Linked DNA regions of Homo sapiens: all the other regions are linked to region 1. A link means that fine-mapping ties the variant in region 1 to the expression of a gene that starts in the linked region. Tissue or cell type: whole blood. Region 1 holds a variant in brackets; each other region holds the start of a gene. Each region is shown on its reference strand, or each on the opposite one.

Evidence for each region. PIP is the estimated chance that this variant, and not a neighbour inherited with it, causes the effect. A credible set is the group of variants that fine-mapping cannot tell apart.
Region 2: TNFSF13B starts here. The variant in region 1 is the best candidate, but not a certain one, in a credible set for the expression of TNFSF13B in whole blood (TOPMed, PIP 0.71).
Region 3: it holds the start of IFI30, and the variant in region 1 is the best candidate, but not a certain one, in a credible set for the expression of IFI30 in whole blood (TOPMed, PIP 0.56).
Region 4: it holds the start of NFIL3, and the variant in region 1 is the best candidate, but not a certain one, in a credible set for the expression of NFIL3 in whole blood (TOPMed, PIP 0.80).
Region 5: ZBTB47 starts here. The variant in region 1 is fine-mapped to the expression of ZBTB47 in whole blood (TOPMed, PIP 0.91).

Annotation. Positions count from the first base shown.
Region 1 is chr7:50,248,514-50,254,492 of GRCh38, reverse strand. No RefSeq gene overlaps it. Among named protein-coding and RNA genes, the nearest start is that of IKZF1, 53 kb to the left of the region's middle. The variant G/T (reference allele first, on the strand shown) is at 2,792.
Region 2 is chr13:108,266,331-108,272,309 of GRCh38, reverse strand. TNFSF13B (TNF superfamily member 13b) reads right to left here and starts at 2,592. Exons shown (of 6, transcript NM_006573.5): 1 at 2,076-2,592; 2 at 1,886-1,970. The coding sequence starts at 2,414. RefSeq lists a silencer at 1,687-1,766 and enhancers at 1,667-2,175, 2,127-2,556.
Region 3 is chr19:18,171,106-18,177,084 of GRCh38, reverse strand. It overlaps IFI30 (IFI30 lysosomal thiol reductase), which reads right to left and starts at 3,272. Exons shown (of 7, transcript NM_006332.5): 1 at 3,112-3,272; 2 at 1,863-2,045; 3 at 1,700-1,774; 4 at 1,388-1,480. The coding sequence starts at 3,243. RefSeq lists enhancers at 2,045-2,710, 2,838-2,907, 5,955-5,979 and a silencer at 3,218-3,527.
Region 4 is chr9:91,420,697-91,426,675 of GRCh38, reverse strand. It overlaps NFIL3 (nuclear factor, interleukin 3 regulated), which reads left to right and starts at 2,844. Exons shown (of 2, transcript NM_005384.3): 1 at 2,844-3,036. It overlaps LOC124902209 (a long non-coding RNA gene), which reads right to left and starts at 5,054. Exons shown (of 2, transcript XR_007061661.1): 1 at 4,972-5,054; 2 at 4,617-4,657. It overlaps LOC105376146 (synapsin-1), which reads right to left and starts at 2,643. Exons shown (of 2, transcript NR_188612.1): 1 at 280-2,643. RefSeq lists silencers at 1-196, 2,507-2,906.
Region 5 is chr3:42,651,405-42,657,383 of GRCh38, reverse strand. It overlaps ZBTB47 (zinc finger and BTB domain containing 47), which reads right to left and starts at 3,687. Exons shown (of 6, transcript NM_145166.4): 1 at 3,501-3,687. ZBTB47-AS1 (ZBTB47 and NKTR antisense RNA 1) reads left to right here and starts at 2,996. Exons shown (of 3, transcript NR_125400.1): 1 at 2,996-3,390. RefSeq lists enhancers at 713-1,007, 3,072-3,713 and silencers at 2,587-2,666, 2,707-3,066.

The sequences.
Region 1 (5,979 bases):
AGAAGGAAAAGAAAATAAACAAAATCCTATGGCAGCTTCCGCTATGGCTGTGTTAGCTCCTGCTGGACCAAACCTCCCAGAGACCAGCTAAAAACCCTGGACAAAACACAAAAATATAACCTGAAGGCACCGGGGTGAATGAACATAGGCAGATGCCACAGTGGAGTTGATACTCGGAAGAAGACACAATATAGGGTAAGTGTTGTCCTTTTTCTTGGTAGGCTTTTAGCTTGCAACAAGACCTGGATGTGTGCCATGCAGCCTGATGTGAGGTGTCTGGGCCAACTGGGATTAAAGAGGCATCAGTGCAGGAGAGGGAGATTGGTTATGGCCAAGGAGATTAATCAAATAAATATTAAGAATAATGAGAGCTAGTTTCTTATTGTTGGAGAAGGATGTTAGAAATATAAAGGAACCAAACTAAAACTATGGTTCTGAATTGAAATCGAAGCTATCTGTAGATTTGTCCATATTATCACCTATGTGTAGGTATTTATACAATGATATGCCCTAGCTCTGTCTCCAAGAAATAGTAGAAACAGCAACATTCAATAGCAATGAGTACACCTAGATCCAGCTCTTGGTTTTGCAATACCATTTCCACCAAATGGGAACCATGGATCTTTGGAATAATGGTTGATTTCAAAGCTAGAACAGAGAAAATATGACATGAGCTTGGAATAGTTTGCTGTGATAAAGTAAGAAAGTTGTTAAGGTTTGAAAAGGAACACATTAAAAGGACACAGAAGAAAACTTGAAGAGGGTCCCACTGTTCAAATCTAGAAGAATTTAAACATTAAAATACATCAGTATAGTAATGGATTGTAATCCACTGAATTTAATAGGGAACCAATAGTTCATAGTGATATAGACAATAAATAAGTGAACAAATTATAACTTTAATGAGGCATGGGATATTTGCATAGTCTCTCAAAGCAGCTACCCATAAAACCCTCAATTAAAAAGGAAAAAAACAATTTTACAGTGAAGAAACATGACACTTACCACTTTAAGCAATCAAAGTCAACATCACTAGTAATGAAACAAATCGAAACTGTGTTTCACTTGATAGGACACAGCAAGACAAATCACAGCACAGCAAATCATGAGGAGACACCAGGCAAATCCAAATTGGGAGAAATTCCTAAAACACCTGGCCTGTATTCTTCAAACCTGTCAAGAACATGAAAGTCAAGGAGATACTGAGTAACTTTTTCAGGTTGAAGAAGACTAAAGAGAAATTATAACTAAAAGCAATGCATGTTTCTAAACTTGATCCCTTTGCTATAAAGGATATTTTGGACCAAATGACGATACTTGAATTGGGTTTGTGGATTGAATGGCAGTCATATAACAATTTTAGTTTTGTATTTTGATAGACTTATGGAATATGTTTTTGGGTAATTTATTTGTTTTTAGAAAATGTACTCTAGTTTGGGATAGATTGAGCATTATGTCCACAACCTGCCATCAATGATTTGAAGGTACAAACTTTTTAGTAGTGTTCTTGAAACTTATCTCTAAATTTGAGATTGTTTCCAGAAAACATTACTGTAAAAAGAAAGAATATGATCAATTTGGAAAAGTGCACATGGGTCTATATGTTTGTAATGTAAGATACATGAAGAAATAAATATAAGGTACATATTAGGTTTTGAAAAAATAGTGGGAGGTAAAGCTAGAGCTGTATTACAAAGAACCAAATGATTCTTATGTTTGACATTTTAGGATTTTATGGAAAGGAATGTCATGATCTTTCCATAAAGGATGGCATTTTAGAAAACAGCATTCCTGTAGCTTAACAGAAGATAGAAGGAAGAGGGTGGAGACACTTTAAACAGACAGAGTGACTATTTACAAAGCAAGTTAGAGGCAGACCGGGACTCAGGAAGAGATGCTTCAGATTTTGTGTCCATTGCATACATATTACAATTACAAGCCAGCAAGAACGGTTGGAGGGAATGGGTTAATTCTAAACCAAATTGTAATGGGACAAGGAACAACTGGGAGATAAAGAGTGGCAGATTTGGCAATCATGTATCATAATAGACACCTTGGATTTTTAGTTTTTTAATATACCCAGATCATTCCTAAATCATTCAGAGAAGCACAGCTCTATTGCCAAACATGCAAGGCTGTCCTACTGCCTCAGGCCGGCATGTCACCAGGCAGGCAGAACTGAAGCTGAGAGCCTATGGTTGGGACATTCTGACAAGAGTTGGGGAAAGAATGTTTCAGGTATCTGGTGGTACTTGTGACATTTGTGGGAGGTCTTGGGACCATACCAGCGAGGGCTCAGGATGGCAGATGTTTAATGCCACTCCATAGAGGCAGGTTCTGGAGAGGAGAGATGTGCATCGGAGTCTAGGGAACAGAGCTGAGGTTGGATGTCAACAGCAAACCATTGGGAGGGTCTTAGCAGACAAAGAAGGGAGAGCACATGAGGGCCAGTGACAGTGCAGTCAGAGGTGAGATGATATGCAAGCTGGTCCAATGGACACACCCCCCAACCTGTTATGTGGCTGCCCCTCCTGCTCTCTGTGGCGTCCTGAGCTAATCAGGCAGGAATGGAGACAGGCTGAGCAGAAACAGAGCTTCTCTGTTCCAAGAATGTCCTGGGCCTTTCAGAGGCATTATTGTGCTTAATACTTGCACTAGCCCACCAGGTGGTTATTTAGACTTCATTTATACATAGTAAACCTGAGGCTAGGCGCAGAAGCACAGTACTTAATTCAGTGGGAATCCAATGCTGTCTGACTCCAAAGCCCTAGAACTTGCTTCTGCAGCCCTG[G/T]CACTTGGCTCAGATCTACTTACAAGCAAGAAAGCTTGTAGAGTGATGCCCAGGACAATGGCAGAATATGTTCCTTCCATAAAGCTGTCAGAATTATAAAATTCAAGATGATGGAGAATCTTCGTATTTTTACCAGTAATCAATGGTGTATCCTAGAATTTTAGAATTCCAGGACTGGCTGAACTTAGTTGCCAATTTATCATTTTTATTTTTAACTGGTTTGCAAATTGTAGCACACGTAATTGAGGCAACTTCACAATGAGGACATTGGATATTAAAGCTCATGGAGGATCTATTAACTTTTTTTTATTATACTTTAAGTTTTAGGGTACATGTGCACAAGCTGAATGAAATGAAGTTTTAGTTACTTCCTATCAATGCTGTTCTCTCTCCTTCATGAATCTATTGCTTCACAGAAAATGTCTTAAAAGACAGAAAACAAAACAACAATAACGAAAAAACACAACCCCTGTCATCTGTTTTAAAACAGTTCTTATAATAATGATAGTTTACAAACTTGTGTGACTTTCAGATCATAATAAAGCATAATAAGTACTGACTATGCTTGTAATAGTTTAACAATTTAAAAATCATTTTAGTGACTATTTTATCATCATCTAAAATATAATCTCTCACTATGGCTACAAAAATAGATGGCAGCTGGTTTGCACATTACTATGATTTTGTGATATTGTTATTTGAATTAATTTGATCATCAGAGTTTTGGACACTGAATGGATTTTAGGTGCACTAAATGAATACATTGAAAATATAGTCAGTGTGACTGGTTTTGCTTTAACTTGAGGGACTTTGATTTGCACTTAAAACCACTTGGCTTCTTCACTCTTTTGTTGGACTTGCTTTTCATGGTCAAGGAACACCCTTTGTAACACTGGTTACACAACCGCCCTCCTGTGTGTTAGGCACAGAAAGTACTCACTACTCCTCTGTCCCACAATGTCCTAGGCACTTGATATTGTCAATCTTTAAGCTTCTTGCCACTGTAATATAATTGTGGCTTTGATTGGAATTCCCCTGCTTACTAATGAGATTGAGCATCTTTTTCATATTTTATTTTTCTCTTGCATGAAGTACCCATTGAAGTAATTTGTTCACTTCTCCATCGAATTGTCTTTTTTGTATCTATATATTGGGACTCTTTTATATGTTTTAAAAAATACTTGCTCAGTGATCTGTGTTGTAAATATTTTATTCCGATGTGTATCATCTTTTCACGTCTTCATTGTACCTCAATTTTCAGACCAATTGGTTAATCATTTCTGCGAATGTGTTTTTCGACTCTTTAAGAAAGTTTTCCCTATACATGGTAATAGTCTACTACATTGCCTTTCAAAACTTTTATAGTTTTGCTTTTAACATTTATGTCATAAATTTACCTTGAAACGATTTTAGTGTATTATGTGAGATAGGAATCCTAGTTCATTTTCTTCCCTATGTAAAAGTAATTGTTGCTGTCCATTTTCCCATGTTCTTCAATGCTAGCTGTCATAACTGGGTTTCTATTTTTTTGTTAAGTCTGTTTCTGGGTACTCTATTCTGTAAGTATATTTGTTTATCTCTATACAAATAAAACATATCTCAATGATCATATTTTTATAGTATGTCTTGATATGTGATAATGTCCATCCTTCCAATGTATTCTTCCCTTCAGCAATGCTCATTTTTGACTGTTGGCTCTTACATATAAATTTTAGAGCTAGCTTGATGTAACCAATTACCTGCTGGAAATTTGGATTTTTCTTGAATAGAAGGATGAATTTGAAGATAATTAACATCTTAATATATTAAGTCTTCCTATACAGATATCTAATTTTTTTGTTTAGGTCTTCTAAATTTGTACATCTATTAATATTATGTTTATTCCTAGGTAATTACAATTTTGGTTTCTATTGTAAATTTCATATTACTTAATATTAAATTTCCACACTGTAAATACTTTTGGCTGAGGTATACAAATGCAATTAACTTTTCTCTATTTATTTTGTATCACACATTCTTTTAAAATTCCATTATTTAATTCTAATAATTCATCAGCAGATTCATTTGGATTTTCTACAGAACATCATATTATCTGCAAATAATTATGGCTTTGTTCTATTCATTTAAGATGTCATTCTCTTATTTTGACATCTTACATGTCATTTAGATGTTCTAGTCATTTACGAGCCATTCTCTTATTTTGTATCCTCTTCTTGTATTTGATTACTGGCTACAGTCTCAGATATAATGTTGAAGGAAAGTGTGATATTAGGAATCGTCATCATGCAACTCATTTTAAACGGGAGGCTTTTAACAGCCCACCATTAAATACGATGTTTTTCCTAGGATTTTATACGATGTTTTTCCTAGGATTTTAGTAGCCTCCTTCTATCAGTTTAAGTAAGTTTTCTTAATTTCCTACTATTCTGAGCAATACTTTCATGAATAATGAATGCTATTAAGTCGCTTTTTCTCATTTTCCCCATTTATGTATAAATATTTTTATCTATCAATGAGTTTTCTGATGCTAAACCATGTAGTTATAAGATGAAACCCTACATAGCCATAACATTCTATACATGTTAGATTTCATGCTGATGTTCTTTCTCTTGTTCTTTGCAGATGAATGAGATTGGCCTATGCTTTTTTTTTTTTCACCTGTTTATTCTTATCTGGTTTTAGTATTTGGAGCAAATTAACTTCATAAACTCAACTAAATAGTATTCTTTTCCTCTGTACTCTAAAAAAGTTTGTATAAGGTTAGAATTTTTTGAATAAATTGTGCAGGAATTTACTTGTACAATTATCAGGCATGATATTTTCTTTTCTCAAAAGATTTTATGCTACTGATTCAACAGATTTAAGGGATGTTGGACTGTTTGATTTTTTTTTAACTCTCCTTGAGTTATTCGTTAAGTTATTTTTTTTCTAGAAATTTGTTAATTCTAGTTTGGTTTACATATTAAATTGCCATCAGGTTGTACTCAGTATACTCATCTTTTTATTTCTTGAAGCATCTATAGTTTGAATTTATTTTCCTTTTCAGAAGTTGCTTCTGTGCATTCTCTTCATAACGTGAAAATTTTCATTAGAGATTTCTTAATTTCATGAGATTTAAAATAAACCTGTTGTTTTGTTTTTCTAATCTGTCATATTTTAGTTCTGTATTTTATTAACTTCTGTTTTTA
Region 2 (5,979 bases), not on the chromosome of region 1:
AAAATTTTGATCAATTATCAATATGTCTAATTAGGAAGAGCTTATCCAAAATTATAAAAACATGGGACAGACAAGTGGAGACAGTTATAAATAAAAATTAGCAAAAGATAAAATTATAAATAATCAAAATATGCAGAAAGTTTATTCATATTAGTAAACAAGCAACACATCAAAATAAATGTGAGATATTGTTTTACAACTACTAAACTAGTCAAAATACACTTTAAAAATAACATGCAAGCAAGAATGTGGAGAACCGGTACACCACATTTTTGATTGCATGTATAACTCATTTTGAAAACAATATGGCAGTCGGAAGCAAGGGTGATGAAGATGTTTCTTCTCCCTAGCTCAGATATTCCACTATATGAATTTTATATTGAATATATAATTTCACAGAAATAAAAGAGTTCTGTGCAAAACTTTTGCATGTTGTATTATAGCAAAGAGAATGGAAATAACCATTTAAAACAATTGTTAGATAAATTAATACAGATATATGAAAAATACTTAGAAATAGGAAAAATCCTTATTGTATAAGTCAAAACAAAAAATATTATAGTATATATTCCGTATTATTTTCAATTATGTAGGAAATATAGACTATAAAATGCAGACGATAAAAATAATTGATGTGTTAAAATAATAAAAATGTGCATGTTTCCTAATTTAAAAATGTTTAAGCCCAGTTATTCCTGATAACTAGTATAAAGATACAATAACCAGATACCAAAAATTATGGTTTTATAAAATAAGAAACAATTTTTTATGAATAAAGCATATAGTCAAAAAATAAGTTTATAGTCAGGGTACCTCATGCGTGTGTGTGTGTGTGTGTGTGTGTGTGTGTGTGTGTGTGTGTGTGATAGAAGGGTCCCTGGTCTATCTCTCACTACATTTCTTATGCAATTCTCTTCAGAAGTGAAAATATACATAAATTATTGCATGTATTCTGTGGACTTCATAGCGTCACTGTGAAGGTTAAACGAAATAGTATGTTTGAAAATGCCTATTCTGGTCTATAGCTGTACGATACGTTCCAGGTGCTCAAAAAATATTCTTTCAATATATTTAATAAAAGGACAATAATATTAAGAATTTGTTATATTATAACTTTAATAAATGTATACAAAGATTCTTTTTTTCACCTTCAAATGAAAGAACTAGAATCGATCATTTTGGTAGGCCCCACCAACTCTGTAAAGTTCCGTGGAATGAGCAGAACATGAAGAAAGTCAGAAATCAGTAAAGGACGATTATAAGAAGACGATAAATGCATGGATCCCCTGGAAAAGCGTACCTTAAAGAGAAGCTTTAAAATCTGTGTGTGTGTCTGTGCGTGTGTGTGTGTGTGTGTGTAAAATAACCTTTTTAACAAATAAACAAAATTAAAGTACAACATACAGGGCCTTTCATTACAACCTTCACCTGGTTTCACAACATGTAATGTACATTCAGAAAACAGATGTCTTTAACTTTCTATGACCCAGGTAGTAAGCAAAGTCTAATTCTAACATGTAATGCTTTTTTTTATTTTTCTGGAGTGATGAATAATGCTTCTCACATGGGAGGGCATTATCTACCTGAGGAAACACATATGGCCCTTTTATCTCCTCTATGCTTAATGCACAGATAAATACTTACACACGCACAGAGAAATGCTTCCAGTCACACGATCTGCTCATTGGAGGAAAAAGCACACCCATGCAGCCTGTTACATTTGCCAGCGCTGGGGCTTTGCTCTAAAGCAATGTCTGCTTTGGATGGCAAATTTCATAGTCTCTATTTAATAGGTTCATAGAGGGGATACTCACCTCCAGCTCCCCCAGACTGGATGTTATTCTCTAATCCCTGACTCCTAAAAGTGTCTGTGCCCAAAACATACCTGTTTCTTCTGGACCCTGAACGGCACGCTTATTTCTGCTGTTCTGACTGGAGTTGCCTTCTCCTGGAGCTGGTGGTTCAAAGATCTATGAACAGAAAAACTTCAAGTTATTAGAAAGACAGCTGAGGCGAGGGAGAGGCAGCAGTGTAGGCAGGATCTTGCCTGCGTCTTGCAGCTGCTGCAAACTCACTTTCAGTCCCGCGGTGACAGCTGGAGCTTCCTCCAGGCCGGCCTTGGGGGCTCCTGCTCCTGCTGGCAGCTTCTCCGCGTGGTGGCCCTGCAGCTCTGCCCGGAGGCTGGCCAGGTCCCCTTGCAGGGCGGCCACCTGGTAGAAAGACACCACCGTGAGGCAGCAAGACAGCAGTGCCAGCAGCAAGGTTGCAGCCAGCAGCTTTCCGTCTTTGGAGGATCGGACAGAGGGGCTTTCCTTCCGTGGGAGGATGGAAACACACTCCTTCAGTTTCATTTCTTCTCTTTTCTTAAGGCAAGAAGTAAGGCGTGACTGCTCCCTTTCTGTGGAGTCATCCATATCACTACTTGAACTTTGAAGGTTGGGGCCTTTAGAATAAGTGACCACAGGGAATGGATCATTTCCTGTTATCTGTGTTTGTTGATGTCCTGCGTGCACTACATGGCAGGGCTTGGCTCACCCCTCAGGAGAGTTATCCTGAATTTTCTCCTTTCTGCCTTTCTGCATCTCTACCCCTACTGTACAGTAGGTTTGCTGGCATTTACCCTCCGATTGGATTGCTCAATCTGTCTTCCTCATTTCACTTTCAGTTTTTGTAAGAATTTCAAAGTCTTCTCATAACACTCATGCTCAAGTAGATTTAAAACCCCTTAAATCTGCTGAGGAAACTTGGAGTTTGGATTGGCACAGTCAAGGGAAAGCTTTTAAGATATGCTCAGGTCTGAGAAGCCCACCCTTAAGTGTAGCAAGGGAACTCTGTCTGCTTGGGACCACATGGCTTCATAAGGAAGGGGGAAAAGCAGCTGAAAGTTCCTGCTGCTGTCATAAAAATAATTAATGTGAAGGTCAGATAAGCTAAGTGTTTTAGCATTGAATTGTTCTTAGCTAGAGAGTGATTTATTAACAGTCTTCAATTATGAAATAAAATGGAGAATCCTTGAAGGAAGTGTGGAAGTAAGTCCACTGGGAATTATTCATATTATTATACTAATAATGTCATAAAAAGAATGAGAGTAAATGTTACAGACGTATTTAGGTTAGATATCTGAAGGATTCTCTAAATATAAGTGAATATATTTTTAAGGAAAACATGCATAAACTTTTTCCTTCTGGGACTCATCACTGAAACTCAATCATGCATATGAACAGCCTGTCCCAAGGAGCCTGGTCTCAGCTTTTCTGCTCAGACTTCTGAGGCTTTAAGTCCCCGCTCAATATGATACTAGTTGAGGAGAATCAGCCTTGCCTCCAGCTCCAAATGCCTGACTGCTACCATTAACCACTCTCAAGTAGCTTGTCTACAACTCCCATGTTGACTGTGCCACAGCCTAACAGGTCGGTGTACAAGAGGTCCTTGATCACACAAGAGCCACCTTAGCTTTGGATTTTTCTGTTGTTGACTTGGTGGACCTGTGAGGACTGTTGCATTCATTCTAGTCCTGCCTTATCCTGATGGCTGGTTCCTGGACATTCCCCAGTTTTTCACTGCTTTGCCCCAGCATTGAAATATTGATTCATCTTTCAACAAACGTTACTGAGCACTTACCAAGCCCTGGGTAGTCACTACTCCCCTGTGGACTAAGAATAGTGAGCTTTAGTTCTGTCTCACTCTACATTTCCACACAGTCTTAAGTAAGAAGTTTACAGAAATGATATAGTGCAAAGTGGAGAACTCCAGACCCAGGCTTCTAGACTGCAAATCCTGCCTCACCCTCGCTCTCCTTATGCAAAGTACATAATCTCTCTGTGATTCCATTTCCTCACCTGTGAATTCGTATGACGATATTAACTGTCCCTGGGATACATAATGAGGCTTACAAGAATGTGGAAACAAATTACATTTTGGATGCTTCCATTTAAAAAAAAATTATTTCCACAGGTTTTTGGGGAATAGGTGGTATTTGATTACATGGTTAAGTTATTTAGTGGTGATTTGTGAGATTTTGGTGCACCCATCACCCGAGCAGTGTACACATTGAACCCATTTTTTAGTCTTTTATTCCTCACCCCCCTCCCACCCTTTCCCCTGAGTCCCTAAAGTCCATTAGATCATTCCTATGTCTTTGCATCTTTGTAATTTAGCTCCCACTGTGAGTTAGAACATACAATGTTTGGTTTTCCATTCCTGAGTTACTTCACTTAGAATAATTGTCTCCAATCCCATCCAGGCTGATGCGAACATCATTAATTCATTCCTTTTTATGGGTGAGTAGTATTCCATCATATATATGTATCATAGTTTCTTTATCCACTCATTGATTGACGGGCATTTGGGCTGGTTCTATATTTTTGCAGTTGTGAATTGTGCTGCCATAAACATGTGTGTGCAAGTATGTTTTTCGTATAACAACTTCTTTTCCTCTGGGTAGATACCCAGTAGTGGGATTGCTGGATCAAATGGTAGTTCTACTTTTAGTTCTTTAAGGAATCTCCACACTGTTTTCCATGGTGGTTGTACTAAATGATCAGGGAAATGTAAATCAAAAGCACGGTGCAATGCTTCCATTTTTTCATTCACTTTTATTCTTTACATTCAAAGTATGAATGAAACATTTTTCAGTTACAAACAGTGCTCTAATAGATATTTTCTACAACTGTGCTTGTAACGTCTGCAAGGGTTTCCCAGCAAATGCCTGCTGAGGGAGAAGCACATCTTCACTTTTACAGGCACCACCCAGTTACCCTCTGACGAGTTCCCATTTCCTCATTGTCTTACTACAAAATGACGCAGTCAGACTTACTTGTTTTTACCATTAGGATTGTTTTTTGTTTTTTGTTTTTTTCCCTTTGCATCTGCAAGTTTCCAAGACCTTTTAAAAATAACTTGTTATTATCCTGGCCCCCAAAATAAGCTGCTCTCTAATTTTTCTTACCTATAACTCCCACAATAAGGTGACCGTGCCCCAGTCTAACAGGTACGTAGACAAGAGGTCCTCCATCAACCTTCTCAGGTGGAAGTCTTCTTTTAGAAGGATGTTTGTAAACCCTTTTGCATCAGGAATGACAGTCCAATTCTTTTCTGTCAGTTCTTGTTCCAGAACAATTAGGGTGAGTCATACGGAGTAACCTTGCCATAAAAAATGGAATTCGTATGGGAATTGTATGAAGGCCTTCTTACTGAAAGTCATTGAGATCCTTTAGATGATGTGTTTGTGTATTCTTATGATTTAAATACATGCAGAAATGAAAGGATGCAACGCAGTGCTAGAAAGCAATTTCTCTCTGCGTTTCACTCAGGGTTTCCTGTAGCCACTGCTTCTCTCCATCCATGGACATTCTCCCTCTTCTGGTGAGTCGTTCCCCTCTATATCCCTCAGAGAAAATTCTGAAGACAGGGAATGATTTGACTGCTTTAGGGAATTCCCTCTGCCTTCGTCACTGTGTTGGGCAGAGACTTTCATGCCTGAACATCTCAAAAGAGAGTCACTGGCCAGCCTGCACGCAGCCATTTTTAAACCAGTGCCGATGTTTGTTGCGGCAGTGAGCCGTGCCATGCATAAAATGGGCAAGTTCTTCTTCCACAAAGGGCAGCCATCATGTCCCTCTGGCTAGAGGGACAGCAAGCAGGGATGGCAATGTGCACATCCTCCACAGGGATCTGACAGCTGCATTTTCTCTAAAGACAGGTAGAAAACGAAGTGACATTCATGACTCTTGAATCTCTTATTAGATGAACAAAAGGAAGTCATTACTCCATAAATCAAGAATCTGTTTCCGGAAGAGGAAATGGTTTGGCAATAATTTAACAGAAATTCTGTTAAACAAGAAGCATGTTCACGTTCATTGAATAATACACCACATCACAAGTTTATTCAGGGACAAAAGGCCACTGTATCTGAGCCACAGATTGTGCAGCGATCTTATTATACATTCAGTGTTTATTGACAGTATTTAGCTGCTTTTT
Region 3 (5,979 bases), not on the chromosome of region 1:
TCCCGCCCACCAGCCCTGAGCCAAGCCTGTTTCGTCACTGAGAAGAGGGTACAGTTGGCTTCACAGTGATGCGACAAAGCCCACAAACAGCAGGTGCTCAATACATGCTTGAGTGGAGGCCCCTAAGGCAGGGCTTGGGCTGCTCCTGCCTCCTAGCTCCCTTGGTTTCATCCCTAAGACCAGACCCACTGCCTCTGACCCCCATAGTATCTCACTTTACTCAGGACCTCCACACAGGCTGATCCCTCTGCCAGGAACACCCTTCATCCTCCTTCCACAGTGTCTCCTCAGTGCCCTCTCCTTGCCACTCTCTCAGCCCTGATCTAACCCTGCAGGACTAGGGTGTCACTAGGTGAGGCCTCTTGGGTGACCCGGATGTTTGATGAATGAATAAATGATTGGAGCCAATGAGTCACTTCTCTGGGAGTCATTCTTCACAATCCCCCGGGGAAGTAGGTGGGGTCTGTCCTATCATCTCCACATCCCATCATCTGTGTCTCTGCACATTCCTGCTCATCCTTCCATGCCCAGCTCAGAAATGCCTCCTCCAGTAAGTCCTCTGTGATCACTCATGCTCCTAAGAGACCTGCATTCATTCCCCTGATTCAGAGATGGAGGCTTCAAGAGGGGAGGCTGGGGCCGGGCGTGGTGGCTTACACCTGTAATCCTTTGGGAGGCTGGGACAGGCGGATAACTTGAGGTCAGGAGTTTGAGACCAGCCTGGCCAACATGGTGAACACTGTCTCTACTAAAAATACAAAAATTAGCCGGGCATGGTGGTGCACACCTGTAGTCCCAGCTACTGGGGAAGCTGAGGCAGGAGGATCACTTAAACTGAGGAGACAGTGGTTGCAGTCAGCCAAGATTGCACCACTGCACTCCAGCCTGGGCGACAGAGCAAAACCCTGTCTCAAAAAAAAAAAAAAAAAAAAAAAAAAAAAAAGGGCTGGGTGCGGTGGCTCACGCCTGTAATCCCAGCACTTTGGGAGGCCAAGGCAGGCGGATCACAAGGTCAGGAGTTCAAGACAAGCCTGACCAACATGGTGAAACCCTGTCTCTACTAAAAACACAAAAATTAGCTGGGCATGGTGGCACACAACTGTAATCCCAGCTACTCAGGAGGCTGAGGCTGGAGAATCACTTGAACCCTGGAGGTGGAGGTTGCAGTGAGCTGGGATTGCGCCACTGCATTCCAGCCTGGGCGACAGAGCGAGACTCTGTCTCAAGAAAAAATAAAAAAATAAATAAAATAAAGAAGGGTAGTTGTTTTCCTGGGCTGCACAGACAGCAGTGGTCAGGGCTAGGACTTGAATTTGGGTCTGCCTGGATGCAGGGAAGGTTACCACCCATGTCCCCCTCCTTGGGTGGAGTGAGGGGCGTCACTCACTAGTGGCAGACTTCTCTCCATGTCCTCAAACTCTTCCATGCAGACAATGGTCAGGAAGGCTAGCTCCATGTCAAGTTCATCCAACACGCAGGCCTGGGGTTTGGAGAGGGGGCAGGAGAGGGCATGAAGAGGGCCTAGGGTACCCTGACACCCTCTCGTAATAATCACCAGTACCCACCCAGGAGATAGGGAATAAAGATGTGATTAAATGGGAGCACACGAGGCAGAAGACAGAGCTGGCATCCTCGTATTTGCCTCCTGTACGTGGGACAGTTTTCCCCCACCCCAGTGTGGGGCCCTGGGGCCGCTCACCTCCACCTTGTTGAATTTGCACTCCTCTTCTCCATGCTGGCACTTGAACTCCCACCTGCCACTGACATTTTGTTCCTGCAAGGCAGCAGGGTGAGAGCCTGCTGGTAGGCTGGGTCCCCTGCTCCCCTGCCCACGTGCCTCAGTTTCCCCAGCGCCCACACACCTGTGCGTTTCCGTAGGGCACCAGCGTGACATTGAGGATCTCCATGACCAACAGCCATGTTGGGAAGAGCTCCCGGATCAGGAAGGCTCGGCAGCCACCGCACAGTGCTTCATAGTAGAGGGTCACATTGACAAGCGGTGCATTGGACTTCTTCAGGGGCCCCCGCAGGTATAGATTGCCTGTCTGTGGATTAGGAAGGCGTGGGAGGCAGGTGTAGCCCTGGGCAGTTCCCCACTTCTCTCAACCCCACTTGGTAGTCTTGTAGAAAGGGGGCTGTGATACGCAATTCATCTTGCACGCCTTCCAGAACTTGCCAGGTGGAATCTTGACTTTGAGACTTTTTTTTTTTTTTTTGAGATGGAGTCTCACTGTCGCTAGGCTGGTGTGCTGCGGCACGATCTCGGCTCACTGCAACACCCGACTCCCTGGTTCAAGCAATTGTCCTGCCTCAGCCTCCTGAGTAGCTGGGATTATAGGCACATGCCACCACACCCAGCTAATTTTTGTATTTTTAGTAGAGACAGGGTTTCTCCATGTAGGCCAGAATGGTCTCGAACTCCTGACCTCGTGATCTGCCTGCCTCAGACTTCCAAAGTGTTGGGATTACAGGCATGAGCCACCGCCTCCGGCCTTGGCCCATGCTCATTTCTTGTCACTTCACCTGGAGACCTTGCCTCTGAGCTGAGCAAGGGATCCACGTGAACCCTTTCCAAGTCCGACTGAATAGAGGCGGCACCTAATAGGTGCTGACTTCCGGCTTCAGCTGAGGGGTGGCGGGTGGCCCATGTCGCTGGAGCGGTGAGCAAGTCGCTCAGCCTCTAGGGCATCTGCCTAATAGGTCCCAAAGACACGCGAGCCCTGCCCTGGCTGGAATGAATGCATCAAGGGTAGCAGCAAGAATGCATGCCGGCGGCCCTTGGCCAGCTGCTGAACTTGTGCCCTGGGCCACAAAAGGAGACCCCAGCTCCTGCCCCAAAAGTACACAGTAGGCGCTCATTGAACCCTTGGGCGGGACTAGGCGGGTGGAGGCAGCTGCGCCTCTCAGATGCGGGATGCGAAAGCGAAACGGCACGGAGGGAGTGTGGCCGCAGCGCCGGGAACTGAACAGGGTTTTTCCAGGAACCCGGCAGGGACAGCGTCCCCTCGGGGCCCTGGTCTTCCCCTGTGAAGTCTGGGGAGAAAGAAGGAGCCGCGTGCCCCGACAGGGCGCCTGTTCCCTCCAGCCTGCCCGCCCTGTCGCCGTCCCTACCTTGTAGTTAACTGGTGGCCCATTCCCAAAGAAGTCTAACGCTTGCAGAGGGGACGCCTGCACCGCCGCCGTGGGGACGTCCAGCAGCAGCAGCAGCGGTGGCAGGAACAGCAGAAGTGGCGACAGGGTCATCGCAGCAGGGGCAAAGGTGTGGCGACTGCAGCGGCTGCCTGGGAAATAAGCGCCTTTAACCAGGCGGCGGTCCCGCCCCTAACCCGGGCCCGCCTCCCGATGCCCACGCCCCTCGGGTCCCGGGCCAGCGTCTCTCCCTCCTCCACTCCTTCCTCTGAGTGTCCCACCCCCACCCCTGCCAGGTGCTGGGTCCCCAGTCACGAGGCCATTGGGCCCCTTGGCAATCAGCCCTGCCCAGGCACGTGAGCCCTGGCGCAAGACTACCTTTAGGGGAGGTGAGGTGGGGCCTTTGAGACAGACACAGGCTGAGAGGAATGGTGGTGTCTCCACGCACCCCTAGACCTTCTAGGGGCGGCTAGGGGACTTGAGGCCCGAGACCCACTCTCAGAGTGGGCCTGTGACCTAACAGGGGTGACGTCGGATGGAGGCTGGGGATGGGATGGAGGCCGGGGTTTTGGGGGAGTAACTGAAATATTCAGGCCCCCGAGAGTGGGCAAGGCCTGTGTGGCCAGGTCTCCTCCCTCCAGTCTCGCCCGTGACCTCCCTCACACCCAACCCCCACATCCTGCCCCTCAACCCTTCCCCCCTCAAACTCCTGACCCCGACGCTCCAGACCCCTCACCGTGGTCCCGTGGGACTGACTCAGGCTTGACCACAGCCACGCCGGAAAGCAGAAGCTGGCGCAGGGAGTGGCGTGTCATTTCTCTAGGGTACCCACCCAGCCCCACTTCTGGCTTGGGGTGAAGAGAACTGGCCTTCCTTCTTTTCATCGTTCAAGGCTTGTGGGGGGTGGGGGGCAACCTGGCCTTCAAGGGACGCCCATGGGGGAGAGAGGCAGCCTGTGCTGTCTGGGATAGGGGTGGGGTGGCTTGGAGTCCACCTGGCTTTGGATTTGAGTGACAGAGCCTCAGCTTTCCCTTCTGTGTAATGGGGAGAAGGATAAGGTTTGGGGAACAAGAGTCACCATGGAGGGCTCAGAGGCAGGTGGGGGAGAGTTGTCCCAGGCTGGGGCTTCTGGATGGCATGGTCAGGCCTTGGTGCCTACACAGGACAGTGGCCCCAACAGTGAAGGCAGAGAGAATAGCCTGGAAAAAAGGCCCAGATGGAGGCTGGAGTGTTGGGGGAATAACTGAGACATTCCAACCCTGCCAGGCCTTACATTCAGGGCAAGACACATCGGATCCTAGGGAAGAAAATGTCCCACACCCAGCTGGAAGATATACCTGAGTCCCCAGCTGTGCCCCCCTCTAGTTGTGGGGAAGACCCTGGCCACACACACAGTAGCTGGTTTGGGAGCCGGAGCTTCTCTGAAGTCCCAGTGGCTGGATGGTCCCCGAGCCCATCCCTCAGACGACCAAACCGTTGGCAAAGGCTCCCCAAGACTCACCACCCCAACTTTGGTGCTTACCCTATGCCGGGTGGGATTGAAGAAATAACCATAAATATAATTGCTACAATTTTTCCAGTAGTTACCAGGCACCAGCCCTATTGGAAGAAATCATAAATGTAACCCTACAATGTATTGCTCTCTGGCTTGGTGCCAGGCATAGAGTGGGCCTACAACCCATTTTATCATTGAACCCTCAGAAGCATCCAGTTGGGGCTGGGGGTAGGTGCTACTGACTCCAGCTGGTAACAAATAAATGGCTGATCAGAGAGGGAAGGCTATTTTGCCAAGGACACACAGCCAGTGGTTGAGTGTTTTTAGAGACCACACGGGATATTCTCTTCCACCCCCAGCTCAGCATAGCTGGGATCATAAAGATGGCAACCTTTCTCCTGTGAGCACCTATGCAGTGAGAGGCACAATCTGGGCTGGAGTTATTTATGGGTTATCTCCAGACAGGACACATGGCAGGGACAGTGCCTGGCAAGGCTAGGGGGCTCTGAGGCTAAGGGAGGCAGGTCCTGTCCCAAGGTCCCAGCAGTAGACTGGGTCAGAGTGGAGGTTTCTTTCTGCACTTGCCCCAGGTTCAGCCTTGTTGGGCCTTGAGAGGTGGCTGTACAAAACAGACAAGGACAGTGAGGCCCCAGGGTTGGGGAGGGCTGAAGGGACAATGACGTCGCAGTGGGGGTGTGGATTCTGGGTGTGATGGGGAGGGTGGTAAACAGGAGTCCAAGTCAAAGACGCCATGAGGCCACGCGTGGTGGCTTACGCGACTCAGGGAGGCTGAGGTGGGAGGATCACTAGAGGCCAGGAGTTTGAGACCCACCTGGAAAAGGGCAAGACCCTTTTTTTTTTTTTTTTTCTTGAGACAGAGTCTCACTCTGTCACCCAGGCTGGAGAACAGTGGCACGATCTTGGCTTGGTGCAGCGTTGACCTCCCAGGTTCATCTGATCTTCCTATCTCAGCCTCCCAAGTAGCTGGGATTACAGGCATGCGCCACCATGTCTGGCTAATTTTTTTTTGTATTTTTAGTGGAGACCAGGTTTTACCATGTTGGCCAGGCTGGTCTCAAACTCCTGACCTCAAGTGATCTGCCTGCCTTGGCTTCCCCAAGTGCTGGAATTACAGGTGTGAGCCACTGCACTCGGCAAGATCTTGTTTCTAAAAAAATTTAAAAATAATTAGCTGGACATGGTGACACACACCCGTAATCCAGTGACTCTAAAGGCTGAGATGAGAGGACTGCTTGAGGCTGGGAACCAGGAGCTTGAGGCTGTGAGCCGCGAGCTGTGTTCGCACAACTGCACTCCAGCCTGGGTGACAGAGTGAGAGACCTTGACTCTTTAAA
Region 4 (5,979 bases), not on the chromosome of region 1:
TAATAAAATGAATTAGAATGTGGTTGATTGTCTTCTGCTGGTAGTTCTCATCCCTGTCCAGGCACCTCCTCCCTTGCCCCTGCCCTCAATCCACCCCTAGCACTGAGAGGTTGCTGAGAGCAAGAACCCCTTCCTCCTCCTCCTGAGAACCTTACAGCCCAGCTCCACCATCAGGCACATGCTGATGTCTTCCTAGAAGCCTCCCCACCCTGGTTAATTTGTTTCAAATATCTTAGGTTTTTATGCTCCATTTACTCGAGTTAATCTGCAAATACTTACCTACTCTGTGAATGTTCTAGGATATAATATTAGATACATCATCACTTCGGCCCTGGGGACAGATCCTTCATCCTGTTGTTTAGTGGTGTCCTAATCACCAGGAGGAGCTAAAGAGTTGTTTTCTAAGCTGGTATCTCAGATACCTTTCACACTTCCTCTGATTTCCAAGTTAGATGGTAACAATGAATGATGCACAGATATAATACATACACAATCTAAAATACTCCAAGTAAATATAGGAGCATTCGATTTCAAAATTCAGCATAAAGAATAAGTTTCCAGGTTGAGAGAACTCCTCCAGCATCACTGCCTGGGGTGGCTCCAGGCACGTTCTTTACCTGTCTTGAAGGTCGAGTTGTCTTTAAAGAAAGACATTTACTACAACGGCTTTGAAATTCCATGAAATTATTCAAAATGCAGAACAAGGTCAGAACACGTGAAGGGGAGGGTAGATTATGCAGGACAGCCCTGGATTTCTAGACAATAGCTGCATTTCTGACCCCAAAAAGGCAACTAATATGGATATGATTTTGATTTCATCTAAGAGAGGTTCTCAAAGCTACAAATAAGCATTGTAAGGTTTGGGCAAAAAGGAAACTATCAGTAAATTTGAGAAAAGTGGCCAGGCACAGTGGCATGCGCCTGTAATTCCACTACCAGGGAGGCTGTGGCCGGAGGATCCTTTGAGCCCAGGAGTTCCAGGCCAACCTGGACAACATAGTAAGACCACATCTTGAATTATTATATATGTATGAGAAAAGTGGAAATTATAAACTAAAATCAGGATTTGTTCTCATGAAGGTAGTCAAGTTTGGAAAATGTGTAGTGGAGGGGATGTGGTTCTTGCATTAGTCAGCACCGGGAAGATGGTGTCGGGGAACACGCTAAGCCCATATTGTACGTCTGAGTTTTCAGAGCCTTGTCAGCAGAGCTGTACTACCAGATAAATCACGAACAAGAGTGCGTTCAAAACCACAACGCTGCCCTGGAAGGCTTTCCAAAAACTCAACTGATAGGTGATAAAAATTTTTTAAATATGACTTGCGTTATTATGATATTAACTGTGCAAGAAGGGGAAAGGTAGAAAAGACAATCTTGGCGAGTAGATAGATCTGCTGCTCATGGCAGACACTAGGGATGGTACCTGGGTGTTCACTCTGCTCTTCTCTTTACTTTGGTTTTTGCTTTTTAAAAACGAAAGGAGCAAAAAGAAGTGGAAAGTCGTGGAGGCACTCGGCCCAGCCCCCACGTAGTTCAAGGAGACCAGGAGGGAGCTGGCTGGTGGAGGTCCTGCCCACCTGCCACACTCCGTATTTGGGCAAGCCTGTGAGTCACTGTCGGGAACATGGCTCCCTTCGCCAAGGCCAGCACTGACCACTATCCGTGTATCGGTAAACGCAGGGAGTGTGCCACGTGCCTTGACAGTCTAGCGCGACGACTTAAGAAGTCGCGGCTAGGTGCTCTTTTTTCCATTTTTTTACGTCTCTTCCGTAGCCCGGGAATTTGGGAGAGAAGACTACCGTATCCAGTTAGACGCAGAAATAACACTAAGCAGCTATCAGCTCAAAATCACAGGAAGAGATCCCGCGCGGTCGTCTCAAGCCCCAGCACCAAACGACAGTGGGCGTCCCAGCGGGGGCACCCGAGCGCGGACCTTCACATCCTCCGAGGAACGCCGCACCCGCGTGGCGGGGGTGGGTAGATGGACCTCAGCGAGCCTCGTTTCCCAGTCGTGTTACGCAACAACTTTGCAGCCGTCATCTTCGCCCTAATTGTGCAGGGGGCGGTGTTTGTGCGTGGAGCTTTCCCTCCCGGCTCCGGGCCGTCGCGGCTCTCGGGAGAGGCGCCGGGACATTTTAATCGCTGCCTCCGCCGCGCAGCCCTGCGCAGCTGCCCGGCCGCGCCAACCCCTTCCCCGCCGCAGCGCGCCCCGAGTGTTGGCAGCTTGCCAGCCGCCACCCCCCGCCTTCCCTCCTGCCCACCCCAAGGTAGAGGGCTCCTCTCGGGAGTGTGCGGGGAAGGGGAGGCCGAGGTCCGGGCCACGCCCGGGTAGCCGCAACCCGCAGTGCTCAGTCGGCAACAGGTAGCCCAGCAGGCTGCGGCTCTCAGGAAGACAAAAAGCGCCTCTGCGAGCAAGTGAGGGTCGCGGGGAGCGCAGAGCCACCGCGGCGACCGGGAGGGTGAAGGGAGCCAAGAGCGGACGGGGCGGTGGGACGGGGGGCTCCCGGGCTCCTCCGCAGGCTCGCTCCGGTCGTGTCGGCCGCGTGGGCCGTTGCGCAACACTCGTTGCGCCGGGAATGGGGCGCCAGCCCTCGCGGGCGCTCGGACGGCGGTGGCCCTGGCCGGGGAGGGACGCGAGCTGGTAGTGGCGCCGCCGCGGAGGGGGAGCTGAGGGCGGGGAGGCGGGGCGGGGCCGCGGAGTGCCCGCCCCGGCCCGCCCCTGCCGGCCGCGGCCATTGGCGGCGGGCCGGGGGCGGGTGCGGGCGCGGCGATTGGGGCCGCGGCCGCCAGTCACGCGGGGCTGGCGGGCGGCGACGTAGCGCGGCGCTCGGAACTGACCTACTAACACACATCTCTCCGCGCGGCCACGGCGCCCGCGGACCCGGCGCGCCCGCCCGCCTCCCGCGCCGCGCCCTCGCCGCCGCCCGCCTCCCGCCGCGGCCCCGGAGGCCCGGCCCGGCCCGAGCCCCGAGCGCCGGCGGCCCGACTCCCGGCCGCCCCTTTCTTTCTCCTCGCCGGCCCGAGAGCAGGAACACGGTAAGCGCTCCGCCCACCGCCGGCCGGGGGCCCGGCGACCGCTCCCAGGGCGCGCTGCGGGCGGGCGGGCGGGCGCGGGGTGCGGGCCGCGCTGTGTGCGGGGTCGGGCTGTAAGCTGGGCTCGCCAGCGGCGGCGAGTGCGCGCGGGGCATTCATTACATAAACTTTTGCTGCCTTGTCAGGATGGGACTCGCCACCTTAAGGTGGCTGCTTTGATTGCAGCGCCTTCGCGCCGGCACGTAGTCCTGGCTGGTTTGCGCTCTCCCCCCGCTGCTGTTGCATAATGTCTCCTGATTTCAGGAAAATTGATGTTTTGGTAAAGAAGAGCGCCAGGCAGGCTGAGCCCTCTCCGAGCGGGAAGATGCTCTTTCCTCTCTAGTGTCTTTCTTTCTCGTTCCTTCTCTGGGGCTGGCGGCGTAGGGGGGAGAGGAATGGGGGGTTGAGGAATGGGGAATAGTCTTAATTTGCTTGGTGAGAAAAAGGGTTGGTAGCGTGAACGGTGACGGCATTCGGAGAATGCCTGCGCGGCGTTTGTTTGTGTCAGGGGCTGTGTCTGCACAGACGTTTTCCACCCTGTTTGTCGTCAGCGTGTTTTACAAGCCCTCGGGAAGGTTGTGGGATTTGTCCTTTCATACATTGCATAATCTGCCCACGGTGAAATGTTGGCAAGAATTGCGGGCTGATGTGGGAATATGCGCGTATGTGTGCAATGATTTGGTAATTGAGGCGCAGCGTTGGATATTAGATCGTTATTTACGTCTATATTACGTCCCAAATAAACAGGTTTTAAAACGATACTACAAAACCTAAAAGCAAGAATTGCTCGCATTGAATTCTGATCTTGGGTACTACTGGGGTTCGCCCTTTCAATGTTCTCAGCTGTTATTTTTAAATCTGGGACGAACCATTGTGACGTTTACCTCCCCACCTTCCTAATTTTAATGCATTCCATTCGATCAGCCCTTTTTCTCACCTTATTGTCATTGCTTTTTCAGACACGACAAGACAAATCACATAATAGTTTCCTGGAAATGTTGCATTATGTAACTGCCGAATTTGCTGGCAGTGAGCATAGAGAGAGGGAGCTAATTACGTGATTTTATAATCTTGCTACAAAGAAAGTAGGACAGTCTCAGCCTTTAAGAATGTCACTATAACAGTTTTTTTTTTTTCCTTAAGGATATTTTAAACAGGAAAGTAGACAACCGGGTAAGCATGGAGTTTGCTCATGCTGCCGAATGTGTGTCTTTTGCCCTAAATGAAACGCACGTTCTTCTAAATTTAGCCCTATCACATTTTAACAATTGTGGCCTCGCAGTGCTATTTCTGGTGTTTTCTCCAGGGCTGTGTGCAAATACAAGTTCAAGGCCATTTGCTGTAGTTTTAACTCCACGCCTTCGGAGACCTTTGATAAGATTGTATTTTTAGGAAGGCATTTCGCAGCGCCCGGTGATTTGCTGGATGCTGGCTCCCATTTATGTTTTTAAAGGACACTTTAGGAAACTGCTGTTCTCTGAGAACAGCAGGGAATGGCCAAGTGTCATCTTCTGTTCTTGGCTTTTGTAAATAACAACAGTAAGTGAGGTCAGAAGTATTTATTTACCCCCAGACCAGATATGACCTATGGGAAACAGATATAGGTTAGTAGATTGTTTTTTTGTCTGGATACCCTGGTTTTACTTATGTGAAGATGTGTGAATATGTAATTTACCCAAATATTAAATTTCTTCCTGGACTGTTACATAGTGATTATGTGTGAATATATGTATATGATGGGATGTATATATAACGTAACATTTAAATTAAGTGCAGGGTTTTTTTTTGTGGGAGGTGGGGGGTGGACGTCTCTGGAACAGAGTATATTACCCCAAATAATTGCAGTCGCTTTCCAAGAAGCTAGTTGCTCTAGGCCCCCAGCTTCAGACCCCGACCTACTTTGCGAGCTCGGGTGGGAGTCCCAGGCCTGTAGGGGCCGCGTGGCGCCACCTTCCGATCGCGATCTCCAATGGCGAGTCCGTGCGGCCCCCAGTGCGCCGCTCCCTCCTGCGGGCCGGTGGGGTCTGCGAGAATCCGGGGCTGGGGGCGGGTCTGGTAGTGGCGGGCGGGGACCTCGGGTCGGGACCGAGAAGCGCCTCCGAACGGCAGTTATACTGGGGCTGCTCAGTGGCCTGAGCTCCTCCCTGCCCCCTCCCCACATTCCTTTGTTCTGGCGCGGGGGGTCCTCGCGGCGCCGAGGCCCCGCTGCGCCGCCCACCCGGAGGGAGGAGGGTCTCTGGGAGGCGCCGCGTGGGGGCGCGGCCCGTGGAGCCCGGGCGCTAGGGACCGGCCGGGGCCGGCGTACGGGTGCGCTCTGGGTTCGCCCGGGCCGCGGGAGCCAGGGAGCCAGGGAGCCAGGGACCCCGGCTCCCGCACGGGGCAGACAGGGGCAGCGCGGGCGACCCGGAGCGCCTGCGTCTCCGCGGCCCTCCTTCCAACAGGGCAAATCCAGGGGCCTGACTCCGCGCCTGTTCTGCGGTGAGGTTCAGAAACCTGCAGACACCTTTGTTCCAAGAGTCTTCATTGTATTTCGGAACCAAGCGCGTCTCCATTCTTGAAGTGAAAAAGACCTTAAGAAAAACCTCCAAACGTCCACCGGCCACAGAAATTGGGGGTGGAGGCGCTCCAGTATTGATAGTGATTAAAAGGAAGGCCTCAGCTTGACTTTGGCCAGTTGAGTTGAGCCGATTTTTTTTAACCTTTAATTTATGTGGTCAAAGGCTAGAGGAGAGAGAACACTGATCTCCAGAGTTCAAAATAAAATCTAAACGCCCACATAGACGCTGCTGTCCTACTGTAAAACTACAGTACTTTCATCCTCGCATAAAGACTTCCAAGATTGTACCCATGCAGTAATTCATGGAGACATCACAGATGTTCTCCTGAAGCATATCAACGCAATCTGCT
Region 5 (5,979 bases), not on the chromosome of region 1:
GCCCCAGATCCTTTTCCCGGTAGACCCCCAGACCCCAGGTCAGGTACGGTCCATGTCCACAGGCTCTGGGAAAGCCCTGCCTTAGAGGCCACACCATCTGGGGCTTCCAGAGCCCTAGCGGAGGCCCTCAATGTCTGATGGGTCAGACTATCAGGCCTGTGGGCCACATCCAGCACCTGTGAATTGCCTGGAATAGAAGCCAACTCAGTCACCCCGGCTCTACCACAGCAGCCTCCCCAAAAGGTGGGCAGCACAGACAGGCAGCCTGCCCAGTCCCTGCACGAGAACCATCACACAGTGATGTGCAGATGTTGTTAATATCCACCAACCACCAGCCCAGCTGGACCAGCACCACTGGTTCCAAGTTCTGGCTCTCCTCAGGGCCTGCCCAACCAGGTCTGAGCCTCCTGCATTCGGGAGGTACCTTGCCACAATATTTTGATGGCCACAAAACCATCAGCTCCATAGCTGTCAGTGCCTCCCTGGGGACCCTGGGATGAATCCTGGCCCCATCCATCCACAGCCTACCGCCCCCCTTCCCCATGCCAGGCCTTCCATCGCCAGGAGAGCAGTGGGTAGGCTGGGATTGGGCAGGGGTGGTGGTGGTTGAGCTCCACTTCTCAGTCACCTGAATGAGAAACCTACCGTGGGCCTCAGCAGGAGCCTCCCTGAGCCACCAGGGGCCACCTGTCTCCAGGCCTGCCCTGGACCCTGCCCCCTACACCCAGCAGCCAGGGCAGCAGCCATCCTGTGTTCCCTCACATCCCAGTCTGGCCAGGCCCCTGGCCAAGGCTACCATCTTCCTTGAGTTCTCCACTACACCCCTTACCCCAGCCAAGAAGCCATCCATCTCCCTCTGTCCCAGGCTGTCCAGGCCTGGCCAATCTAACTGGGACGTGGCACCAAGCCCCTCCCATCTCCCTCCTCTGACTCATTCTGATTCATCTTCTGGGACCAACCCCTACTACACAGATGGAGAAACCGAGGCTCAGAATGAGAGGGTTCCACAGTCCAGAGCCCCTGGACTCCCAGCTCCGCTAAGACCACCCCTTCCTTGCTAGACCCCACATGGCTGGATTTCTGAGCCTTTAATGACTTAAAAAGCGAGAACATCCCGCCACCTGGAGACCAGCCGTGCTTCCCCACACTCACCACTATCCCCTCTACCTGCTCCCTCCTCCCTAGAGCCACTGCACCTGCAGGTCAGTGAAGGATCAGGGTACAACTTGGGTTGCAACAGGGGCTCCTTAGGGCCTCCAGGGGCCAAAGACTGGCAGGAGAAGTGGCTTGGATAAGGGTTTGCTGAAGCCAGGCCTGTTGGGGGAAGTCCACCCCAGGCAACAGAGCCCCAGATCTCTCTGCTCTCCCTTTATGGAATGCCCTCCACTGCCCACCTGTGCCCACCTGCCACAGGGAAAGGGCAACCTTCCCATGTGCACTTTGGCCTCTAGGCCAAATGAGGCCTGACTTTGGCCCTCTGGCCTCTCAGCAGGAAAGGAGGGGAGTGCTTTCTCAAACACTCCATTGCTAAGGTAGTACTCTCAGCCAAGGCAGCACCATCCTTGGCCCTTGGGGGGCCCTAAACCTCATGACCTGATTGGACTCTCTTGACTGGGCACAGAGATGCTGCCCGAGTCCACAATTGGCAGCCCCTCAGCAGGGTTCAGCCACCCCCATGTCTGGCCCCTCCCACACAATGCCCACCAGCTGTGCTGGCCTCCACAGCCAGATGTGCTGGTTCCCGGAAGCAATGCGTGCCCCTCCCCATCCGGCTGTGCCAGCTGCAGTCCAGGTCACTCCAGCCTAGCTAAGATGCAGGACCAGGGAGGTGGTCAGGCACTCTGGTTGCCAGGGGGTTTCATGCCCTCAAACCCTTGCCCCAAGTCAGGCTGGGGATTGGCCAGGTGCCAGACATCTCTCCAGGCTGCTCACCCAAGTCAGAGCCTTCTACACCTGAGGGGTACCTTGCCTCACTGATGAGAAGCCTCATCTCTCTACCCTGCCTCAGAGCCTCCCTGGAAGGCCCCATGATGAAACCTGGGGAGTCCATCTGCGCCCCCCTCCCATGTCAATTCTTTCTATGCTGGGCAGCAGTGGGGGGGCCCAGACTGAGCAAGGGGGCACAGGCTCATGACCTCTAGGCTCCTCCTTTTGGTGAGGGAGTGTCCATGCCAGCCTCCTCTGTGCACTTACCTCCCCTCTTTCCCTTGGAAATAGACCCAGAGAGGGCGGGGGATCTGCCCAAGGTCACACAGGAGTTGGTACGGGAGCTCTGGGTGTCCTCCCACACCCCCTTGGCCCGGGTCATCCCGAATCCCCAGGCAGGGCGGCTCCAGCGCCCACGTGGCCCAAGGCCCAGGCGGGAATCCGACTCCCTCTTCCCCCCATTACCCAGCCCGAGGGCGGCGCCGTCCGGGCGCAGGGGAGCGCCCCCCTTCGCCGGTGCCTAGCAAGACCTCAGCCTCGCGCGCCGGCGCCCCCACCACAGGAATTTAACCCCCTCCCCACCGAGAGCAGCGCCACAGCGCCGCATTCCCGGCCCGCGGGACCCAGCAGATGGAGCCGGGAGACCGGGGGAGGGGGGAAGATCCCTCCAGCCCCTCCACCCGGGCCCGCGGGCCGTGTGCCTGGGAGGTCAGAGCTGGCAGGTGGGCGGATAAGCGGGGGGACAGGCAGGGCCCTGCGTACCATGGTGCCGTGGCGCTGGGGGCTCACAGGGCCCCGCGGGATCGCGCTGCCCCCGGCGGCCAGGCCAGGGCCGCTCCATGAAGCGCCGCGCTGGGGGCCGCCCCCGCGCAGGGCCCCGCGACCATGGCCCCCGGGGGCGCGGCCAGGCAGGCGGAGGCGCAGGGCCGCGGCGAGTCCAGCGCCAAGCAGCTGCGGCCCCAGAGCCTCGGGCGCGGCGGGCGGGGGGCGCGGGGCGCCGATTGGAGCCCGCGCGTCAGCTGGGGCCGCCGTCTGGACGCTTAAAGGGCCAGGCCGCCTGCGTGCCGGCGGGGGGCGCGGACACGCGTGGTGTGCGCGGTCCCCGTGCAGCCCGCCCTGCCGCAGGCTGCCCTCCACCCCCAGCCCCAGCTCCAGCCCCCAGCCCGTCCCCACTGCTCATATCCGAGCAGATAGACCCCGGCCCCACCCTCCCGTGCTGAGCCTCCTTTCTGCCGGGAAGTTCGTCCGGGAGTCAAACATCGCTGCCCTCCGGTTGCGCCACGGAGGGGGAGCCAGGATAGGAAGCTGCCGTGAAATCAGGAAGCTGAGCGCGCCGGGCCCCGGATCCGAACAGAAAAGGCTTCCACCCGCTCCCCTGAGGGATCCCACGCTGAGGGACTGAACCCCGCACCCCAGCCGCGCTCACCACCCCCACCCTCTCGCCTGGGCTGCTCTGACCTGGGGGTGAGTCTGGGGTCCCCAACTGGTCCAGTCCCCCATCCCTATCCCAGGGCGGCGCAGGGCTCATTTTGCTCTGTGCCTCCAGGACTTGGCTCCAGTGGACCCATACCTACCTGGCGGCCTCATGCTGCATAGGGCCACCCAGGGCAGGAGATTTAAATCCCAGGACTACAACCGCAGCGATCAAATCATCTAAGGTGACTGGCCCAGGGCCAGGAGACAGAGGGACCAGAGGAGTAGGGACCAGAGGCCCAGGCCCCACTGTGCCCCTCTAGCCGTGTGACCTGACCACTGCTGAGTGGCCCCCTTGCTCAGCCTCTGCTGGGGAGATGCAGCCAGGCTTGCGGAATGCTGCTCTGGCATGGACACCCGTGGGGGCAGGGGGCTGGCTCTGTTGGCAGGAGGCTGTAAAGGAAGGCTGCCAGGCTGAGCAGGCAGCAGGGTGGGGACCACGGGGCACTAGACCTGGCAAGGTCTGGATGGTGACTGGGCCACCATTGTAGAGGAGAGGCCTCTGTGGACATCCCCTCCTCCTACCCCAAGCTCACTACTGCCCATCCTGGGTCACTCTCATGTTGCCCCCATCCTGATATTCCACACCCCTCCCCACATATGTGCGCTTGTGTTTACATACAAGTCCATGTCCAGCTGCAGCAGTATCTCCTGGGTATGTTGTCCTACTCACGAGTGGGCAGGAACTCTGGCGCTGGCTCAGGGTGACTTGGTTCTAGGTGCCAGAGGAGAAATGGAGGAGAGACCAGGGTATTAGGCAGGTGCTGTGAAACAGCCTGATGGTCTGTCCTGTAAGATTGCAAGGGCCTCCTCCCCCACCCCCACTCTCTGCCAGAATACGTAGGGCCTCAGGATAAGGCTATCCCAGAGCTAGGGAGAAAATGTCTCAGGGGCCAAACCTGGGGCATCTGGAAGCCCCTGGCAGCTGCTGCAGACATCCTGTACCTGCATGGGTGCACAGACAGCTGGCCCAGCTCCCAGAGGCCCCAGGTTAAGGCCAGGCCAGAGCAGCTTACATGCTTCTGACCAGCTAGCCCGCTGAGGGCTGCCTTCTGCCTCTTCCTCCCCAGCCCACTTCCTCATCTGACTCACAGTGGATCCTAGCACCGGCCCAGGAGTTAGTTAGGGAGGGGCTGTGTGCCCATTGGTTGGATAAGGACTCTGAGGCTCAGAGCGGGACAAATCACTTAGGCATCAGCATCAGGAGCCAGGGGAAGGGGAGGTGGGGAGAAGGGACCCCTCCACGGGCTGGAAGAAGCCTGGCAGAGAGAGCTGCATGGGACATTGCTAGGCCCACTGCCAAGCCAAAGCTTGACAGAGGGTGTGGCCAGCGTGACTGAGGTAGTGATGCTGGCCCTATGGGGCCTTGCTGGGGCCTTAGCTCCAGCAGTCAAGCTGCAGAAAGGGCTGGAGGTTGGGTGAGAAGGGAGGGGACAGGTGGTGGGGAGGCACTCAGTCTCCCTGAAGGCCTCGGCTGTTCCCCTCTTGCTTCTCTGGCCTGCAGCTCATCAGCTGGGGAGTCCCAGGGCAGAGCCTGAGCTCTGTGAGCAGCTGTGGGCACCTGGCAACACTGGACCTGGCAGGAAGGAGTGGTTTGAAGAGCTGTCTGGTGGGCCCACAGGGCTGCTCAGAGCTGAGGCTTGAACTTGAACATTAACTAGAGCAATGAGGGAGTGAAAGGGCTTTCCAGACAGAAAGCCTGCAAAGGCCAGGAGGTGGAGACAATTTAGCATCTGCAGGGAACTAGAGGGGATTTGGTGTAGTGGAGTCAAGATTCCTATCGATCAGGAGTTGTCTGGTTGGTGGGAGTGAACAGGTGGAGCTAGGCAGAGGCAGAATTTCTCTCTTGGTCCTGATGAGGGGCATGCAGTAGGAGCTTCACTTCAGGGAGGTCAAGGCAGGCTTTCTGGAGGGAGGGACTGAGTTATTGGGGAGTTGACTCCTGGGCCAGAAATGCATGCCCCAGGGGTGAGTCAGGAGTCTGGAGACGCTCACCCAGCAAGGGCAGAGCTTAGTGATCCTTCACATATTTGGGATTGGGTCCTGACAAGGTCAGCAAAGCTATGCCCCTGCCTCTAGAAGACAGCTCATGGGTTTTCTCTCAATTTCCCTAAGTATCTACCCTCAGTGCTGGAGTGTCCCCAGGCTTAGTTGGGGAAACCAGATTCAACCCCACTGAAGTTAGAAAGAACAGCCCAGGTTGTGGGTATGCGTATGTGTGTGGGAACAATGCAGGACTGAGTCAGCCCGGAGGGCATGGAGCTGTGTGTAGCTGAGCCTGGGGAAGAGGGAGAGCAGAGTGGGCAATGCCAGAAAAATACAGGCAATGCAACTCAACTCGCACAGCATGTGGCCAGTGGGCTGGCAGGGAAGTTCAAAGCTACCCACTAGGCGCTGATCCGAAGCCCAAAGTTCTAGTAGGGCGGGAAAACATGAATCCCCAGGGTGTGGGGTGGGTTAAGGGTGGAGTTTACACCTGAATTCTGCCTCCACTGAACCCAGCACTAATAGGCTACAGCTGCCCTGGGTTGGGGGCCTCATGCAAACCGGTAGGTTGCCTGGTTCCCTCACAGCATAAAC